Linked DNA regions of Homo sapiens. The protein of the gene in region 1 interacts with the protein of each later gene in a biochemical or structural test. Each region holds a gene or a part of one and is shown in the gene's direction. Other genes may lie near its edges.

Evidence for each region. Proteins that work in one complex are often made in the same cells at the same time.
Region 2: the proteins of RND1 (region 1) and GRB7 form a complex in vitro, tested with the Homo sapiens proteins (one study listed by BioGRID).

Annotation. Positions count from the first base shown.
Region 1 is NC_000012.12:48,856,475-48,859,926, reverse strand, and holds the end of RND1 (rho-related GTP-binding protein Rho6 precursor), read left to right. Parts: intron 1-1,685; coding exon 1,686-1,931; 3' UTR 1,932-2,782; downstream 2,783-3,452. UniProt on the Homo sapiens protein: Lacks intrinsic GTPase activity. Has a low affinity for GDP, and constitutively binds GTP. Controls rearrangements of the actin cytoskeleton. Induces the Rac-dependent neuritic process formation in part by disruption of the cortical actin filaments.
Region 2 is NC_000017.11:39,740,938-39,744,361, forward strand, and holds part of GRB7 (growth factor receptor-bound protein 7), read left to right. Parts: intron 1-1,314; coding exon of another isoform or gene 1,315-1,364; coding exon 1,365-1,519; intron 1,520-1,628; coding exon 1,629-1,779; intron 1,780-1,960; coding exon 1,961-2,117; intron 2,118-2,242; coding exon 2,243-2,364; intron 2,365-2,455; coding exon 2,456-2,533; intron 2,534-3,132; coding exon 3,133-3,270; intron 3,271-3,424. UniProt on the Homo sapiens protein: Adapter protein that interacts with the cytoplasmic domain of numerous receptor kinases and modulates down-stream signaling. Promotes activation of down-stream protein kinases, including STAT3, AKT1, MAPK1 and/or MAPK3. Promotes activation of HRAS.

The DNA of each region.
Region 1 (3,452 bases):
TGCACACCTGTAATCCCTGGGCAACAGAGTGAGACTCTATTTCAAGAAAAAAAAGTGTGATCTGCCTAGGTTGGAGTGCAGTGGCACAATAGTTGTTTATGCAGCCTTGACCTCCCGGACTCAAGTGATCCTCCCTCCTGTCTCCCTAGTAGCTGGGACTATAGGTATGGGCCCCACGCCTAGCTAATCTTTTAACATTTTTTGTAGAGACAAGGTCTCAGTATGTTTCCGGGGTTGTTCTTGAACTCCTGACATCAAGTGATTCTCCTACCTTGGCCTCCCAAAGTGCTGGGATTACAGTTGTGAGTCACCACACCTGGCCTGGAATCTGCATTTTTTATAAGACCCCTGGATAATTTCTTATGTGCATGAGAGCATAGGGTTGGGGGACTGAGTTTCGCTCTTGTCACCCAGGCTGGAGTGCAGTGGTGCGATCTCAGCTCACTGCAACCTCTGCCTCCCGGGTTCAAGAGATTCTCCTGCCTCAGCCTCCTGCGTAGCTGGGATTACAGGTGCCTGCCAACACGCCCAGCTAATTTTTGTTATTTTTAGTAGAGATGGGGTTTCACCATGTTGGCCAGGCTGGTCTTGAACTCCTGACCTCAGGTGATCCACCTGCCTTGGCCTCCACTGCACCTGACCTGGGGAGCTCTTAAGAATACTAATACCGGCCAGGCGCGGTGGCTCACGCCTGTAATCCCAGCACTTTGGGAGGCTGAGGCGGGCAGATCACAAGGTCAGGAGATCAAGACCATCCTGGCTAACATGGTGAAACACCATCTCTACTAAAAATACAAAAAATTAGCCAGGCGTGTTGGCGGGTGCCTGTAGTCCCAGCTACTCGGGAGGCTGAGGCAGGAGAATGGTGTGAACCCGGGAGGCAGAGCTTGCAGTGAGCCGAGATCGCGCCACTGCACTCCAGCCTGGGCAACAGAGCGAGACTGTTTCAAAAAAAAAAAAAAAAGAAAAGAAAGAAAAAGAAGAATACTAATGCCTTGGCTCTATACCCAGAATTTTTTTTTCCTTTTCCTTTTTTTTTTTTTTTTTTTTCCAGAGACAGGGTCTTACTCTGTCACCCAGAATGAAGTGCAGTGGTGTGATCCTAGCTCACTACAGTGCAGAACTCCTGGGCTCAAGGGATCCTCTCTAGTATTTGAGACTATAGTTGTGTGCCCACTTCCAGTGAATTTTTAAACATTTTTTAAAAGTGTTTATTATTATTTTATTATCTTTATTTTTGAGATTTATTTTTGTAATTCCAAAGCGCTGGGATTATGGGTGTAAGCCACCGCGCCCGGCCACCTAGGCTGGTCTTGAACTCCTGGCCTCCTCAAGTGATCCTCCCATCACAGCCTCCTGAGTAGCTGGGATTAGAGGCACTAGCCACTGCCCCAGCTATCCCCAGAAATTCTAATTTAGTTTGGCATCAATATAGTTTTAAGAGTATTCCAGATGATTTATAATGTGCAGTCAGGCATCGTCTTAAGAAAAAGAGGCATCATCAGACAGGGTGTATGCCAAAAAAAAAAAAAAAAAAGAAAAGATAATCGAATAATCTGCAGAGGGTGGTGTTTGGAGACTGGCAGCTGGGTCCCCTCTGGAGTGGCCCTGGGGAGTGACGCACAGAGGCAGCGTCCCAGAGCCATTTTGGCCCACTGCATTAATGCCCTCACCCCCTCCTGCAGGGTTGTGCAATAGCAAAGCAGCTGGGTGCAGAAATCTACCTGGAAGGCTCAGCTTTCACCTCAGAAAAGAGCATCCACAGCATCTTTCGGACGGCATCCATGCTGTGTCTGAACAAGCCTAGCCCACTGCCCCAGAAGAGCCCTGTCCGAAGCCTCTCCAAACGACTGCTCCACCTCCCCAGTCGCTCTGAACTCATCTCTTCTACCTTCAAGAAGGAAAAGGCCAAAAGCTGTTCCATTATGTGAAGTGGAAATTGGAGGGGGGAGACAACCCCCTACTTCCTCCCTTGGGGTGCAGAGGCACGGGGAGAGGGAGGATGAGACAATTTAGGACACTGGACATGAGTTTTTCAGATGGCCACGGTGAGGGCTTGGAAGGAGACAGGAATGGGGCGAGGAAGGAGCCAGGCCCGGCATGAGGACCTGACGCTGAGAGAGAACCATCATACCCCAAGCCAGGCACTAGATTTTGGAGGGGGCGACTACCCCAGTGCCCCCCCCGCTCCAGAGGAAGGAAAGCTGTGGGGGACGGGGGGCATGCTGGCCTCATGGGCTTGGGGGCCTACAGCAGCCTCACCTTCAGCTTCATGCCTCTTCCACACAGCGTTTCCATGCAGGTCAGGGGATGGGAGGGGTCCCTGAGCCCTTCCCTTCCCCTCTAAGGAGGCAGCAACGGAGAGTGGGGAAGTGGAGCGGCAGCTCCCTTGGGGGCTTAGCCCAGGTGCTTCGTAACTGCAATCGGAAGTGCAGGAGCTGGTCAGAGCCAATGAGAAGGAAACCTCATCTTTGCATAGCCCATGCCTCATGGAGAGGTGACATCATACATTCACATGCTTCTCACCTAAGTCCCCAGGGTCCAAGGGAGAAGCCCCAGACCCCCTTCTCTTGCAGAGTGTGGGGGTGGTGGTGCTGCAGGGGCAGGGCTGGGTGGGGGTCACCAGACTTTTTCTGCCCTTAGGGTAGTACAGCTGGCATTTGTTTTATAGACTCTTGTCTTTGGAATTGGGGGGAGGGGGGGAGTGTTTCAATCTGTTATATGTTCTGTGTTTAATGAAGAAAACCTATTTATTAATGAAAAATATAATACATATAAAGAATTTGGCTCCGTATTTTTTTCTGTTTTCTTTAGTTGTTACAATTGGTATTTTTTTTTTTTGGTCTTTTTTTTTTTTCCTTTTTGTGGAGAACAGGGTCTCGCTATATTGCTCAGGCAGGTCTCAAACTCCTGGGCTCAAGCTATCCTCACATCTCTGCCTCCCTAAGAGCTGGGATTACAGGCATGAGCCACCGTGCTTGAGCCCTTTGGTTGATGATAATGAGAGAAAAGCTGTCCTGGGACCCTTTCTGTGGGTTGCAGAGGGGCTGCCTCCACCATTCCCCAGCTCCTCCAAGAAGGAGCTTCTCTCTTCCCCCATCCCCCTGCCCTAGCCCCACCCAAGACCTACTAAACCAAGGAAGGGCTCCTTAGCCCGAGAGCAGGGGTGCAGGGGTTCTCAACCCTGGAACTATTGACATTTTGGACTGGATAATGCTTTGTTGTGAGGGACTGTCCTATGCAGCCCAAGATGTTTAGCAGTGTCCCTGATCTGGTGGATGCTAGAAGACAGCACCCCACTCTCCAGCTATCACACCCAAAAATGTCTCCAGACGTTGCTAAATGGCCCCTGTGGAAAAATTCTGGTTGAGAACCACTGCCCTGGAGAGTCTAGAGGAGAGAAAAAGGTTGGATGAAATCATCAGTAGAGGATCCAAGCTGCTGAGATTCCA
Region 2 (3,424 bases), on another chromosome or scaffold:
AGTGTTTGGAGAACAGGCTGGGGGCTGGGATTGCAGGTTCTCCCAGGTCTCAGCCCGGCCAAAGGGGTCTGCTGGGTTCCTGCGGAGAAGGTGCCAGCCCCACCTCCACCTCTAGTGCTCGTCTTTGCCTGCTGTCCTGTCTTTACTTGTCTTGAGTGTCTGTGCAGCCCCTATAAGTGATAAGACATGGGTGAGATTGGCCTTGCCTGGGGGTACCAGGTGCCCTCAGACAAATGGGTGGATAGGACAGGTGCACAGTAATGGATGATGCGGCCCCCGCACAGTGCTGAGAGAGAGTCATTCAGTCTGAATGTGGAAGGCCAGGAAGGCTTCTCAGAGGAGGTGGCTCTAGCACTGGGGCTTCAGGAAAGAGTTGGGCAGGAGGATGGCCTGGGGAGGGTACGCAAGGTTTGGGGGCTGCTGGGGCCAGGACCCCTACCCCAGGCCCTGCTCTCCCCCTTGCACTGCAGCGGAGCCCGCTCTCCTGCCTTTCTGACTCCCATCCTTCCCCACCTCCTTCTCCCCTCTGCATCACTCATCACTTGGGCAGGCCAAACCTCGCCAAGTATGAACAGGCTCTGGCAACTGGGTCTGGCAACAAAGTGCTGGAAAAACCCGGGGCACAGCCCAGCGCAGTGAGTGCCCCACACGTGGAGGCAAAGGAGTGGGCCTTTGCCCTGACCCTGAGGGCTGAGCCTGAGAGTCTGTGGGTTGTGAAATCTGTTGTGACCACCAGGCTTGTGGTGGGTGGACCCTCAGCTCTTCCTGTGAGCAACTTTGTGCTAAAGAAAGAGCACTGGAGCCGGGCGTGGTGGCTTACGCCTGTAATCCCAGCACTTTGGGAGGCCAAGGCGGGCGGATCAGGAGTTCAAGACCAGCCTGGCCAACATGGTGAAACCCTGTCTCTACTAAAAATACAAAAATTAGACGGGCGTGGTGGTGGGCACCTGTAATCCCAGTTACTCGGGAGGTTAAGGCACGAGAATTACTTGAACCCAGGAGGTGGAGGTTGCAGTGAGTGGAGATGACGCCGCTGCAAAAAAAAAAAAAAAAAAGGAGAAAAAAAACAGAAAGAGCACTGGACTTGGAGTCTAAACACAGGTTCTACTCCCGACTCACCTGTGACTGAGGGCAAGAATGCTTTCTTCTCAGAGACTCGGTGTCCCCTTTTGTAAAATGAGGCTCATTCTGTCCTTCCCCAAGGGCTTCAGGGAAACTCCAGTTAGAGCAGTGAGGTGCTAGGTAAACTCTGAGGGGCACCCTAACCGCCGTGTGAGGTCAGGAGGTCTGAATTCTCTCATCCCCTCTCCCCAGGACAAGGGCACACAACTGGTTCCGTTAAGCCCCTCTCTTGCTCAGACGCCATGGAGCTGGATCTGTCTCCACCTCATCTTAGCAGCTCTCCGGAAGACCTTTGCCCAGCCCCTGGGACCCCTCCTGGGACTCCCCGGCCCCCTGATACCCCTCTGCCTGAGGAGGTAAAGAGGTCCCAGCCTCTCCTCATCCCAACCACCGGCAGGTACGATGGGGCGTGGGGCTTGGGGGAGGTCAGTGCTGGATAATACACAGAGGCTTGCAGGCCACTGCTCCCTTCCCCACACCTCTCTCCCTTTTTCTTCTTGCCACAGGAAACTTCGAGAGGAGGAGAGGCGTGCCACCTCCCTCCCCTCTATCCCCAACCCCTTCCCTGAGCTCTGCAGTCCTCCCTCACAGAGCCCAATTCTCGGGGGCCCCTCCAGTGCAAGGGGGCTGCTCCCCCGCGATGCCAGCCGCCCCCATGTGAGTTGTCCCTCAGAAGGGAAGGGAGGGATGCACGGGTTCTGGGTCTGTGGGAGATACACAGCCGCTTCCATGGAGGCAGGGGATCTTGGTTAGGAGTCCCTGAGGGTCTAGCAGGTGCGGAAAGGGAATGAATCACCCTTTGCCTCCCCTCAAGTCGTGTGCAATTCCTGGGGCGCAGGTAGTAAAGGTGTACAGTGAGGATGGGGCCTGCAGGTCTGTGGAGGTGGCAGCAGGTGCCACAGCTCGCCACGTGTGTGAAATGCTGGTGCAGCGAGCTCACGCCTTGAGCGACGAGACCTGGGGGCTGGTGGAGTGCCACCCCCACCTAGCACTGGGTAAGTCAGGTGCATGGAACTATCCGGGCTGGGAGATGATGCCTTGCATCTTGGGCTAGGCATGTGGCTCATCCAGGAGATCTGGTTGATCTCCAATAACCCCTGCTTTTTGCCCTTGTCCCCAGAGCGGGGTTTGGAGGACCACGAGTCCGTGGTGGAAGTGCAGGCTGCCTGGCCCGTGGGCGGAGATAGCCGCTTCGTCTTCCGGAAAAACTTCGCCAAGTACGAACTGTTCAAGAGCTCCCCAGTGAGTGCATGAGGGCTGTCTGGGCGCTGGGATGCCCTGATCCTCAACCTGGATGCTGGAGCCCTGATCCCTGACACTTGTCTACCCACAGCACTCCCTGTTCCCAGAAAAAATGGTCTCCAGCTGTCTCGATGCACACACTGGTATATCCCATGAAGACCTCATCCAGGTGGGGGGACCCCCCATTTCACTGCAGATTCACGACTCCCCAGCATTGGCCAGTGCTTCTCCACCCTTAAGTCCTGTGCCTCCCCTCTATGTTGTAGAAAGAGCCAAATCACAGTCCTGTGTGACTGGGGACAGTCACTTTCCCTGCCTGAGCATCAGTTTCTTCTATTAAATGGGGGCGAGAAATGCATGTGGAGCATTTCCTTGTAAAAACCTGAGGGTGGGCTGGGCACGGTGGCTCATGCCTATAATCCCAGCACTTTGGGAGGCTGAGGCGGGAGGATTACTTAAGCCTAGAAGTTTGAGAGTTTGAGACCAGCCTGGGCAACATAATGAGACCTCGTCTCTCCAAAAAAAAAAAAAAAAAAAAAAAAAAGGCCAGGAATGGTGGCATGAGCCTGTAGTCCCAGGTGCTTGGGAGGCTGAGGTGGGAGGATCACTTGAGCTCGGGAGGTCGAGGTTGCAGTGAGCTGTGATCGTGCCACCGCACTAGCATGAGACCCTGTCTCAAAAAGAAAAAGAAAAAGAGAAACATCCTGGTGGTAGAGGGGAAGGGAGGAGGTCAGACCTGTCACTCTCCTCTGCTCTCCTCTGGCTCAGAACTTCCTGAATGCTGGCAGCTTTCCTGAGATCCAGGGCTTTCTGCAGCTGCGGGGTTCAGGACGGAAGCTTTGGAAACGCTTTTTCTGCTTCTTGCGCCGATCTGGCCTCTATTACTCCACCAAGGGCACCTCTAAGGTAAGGTCTTGAGGGTACCAGCCCCAGCCCCTCCAGTCCCTGGTCCTTTTAGAAGTTGCCCCTTCTCTGCTGGAACCTCTGAGCCCTTCTCCCCCTGGGCCCCCCAGGCCAGCCACCTCCAGTTTACCATCTCTCCCTACATCCTTGCCTAGCT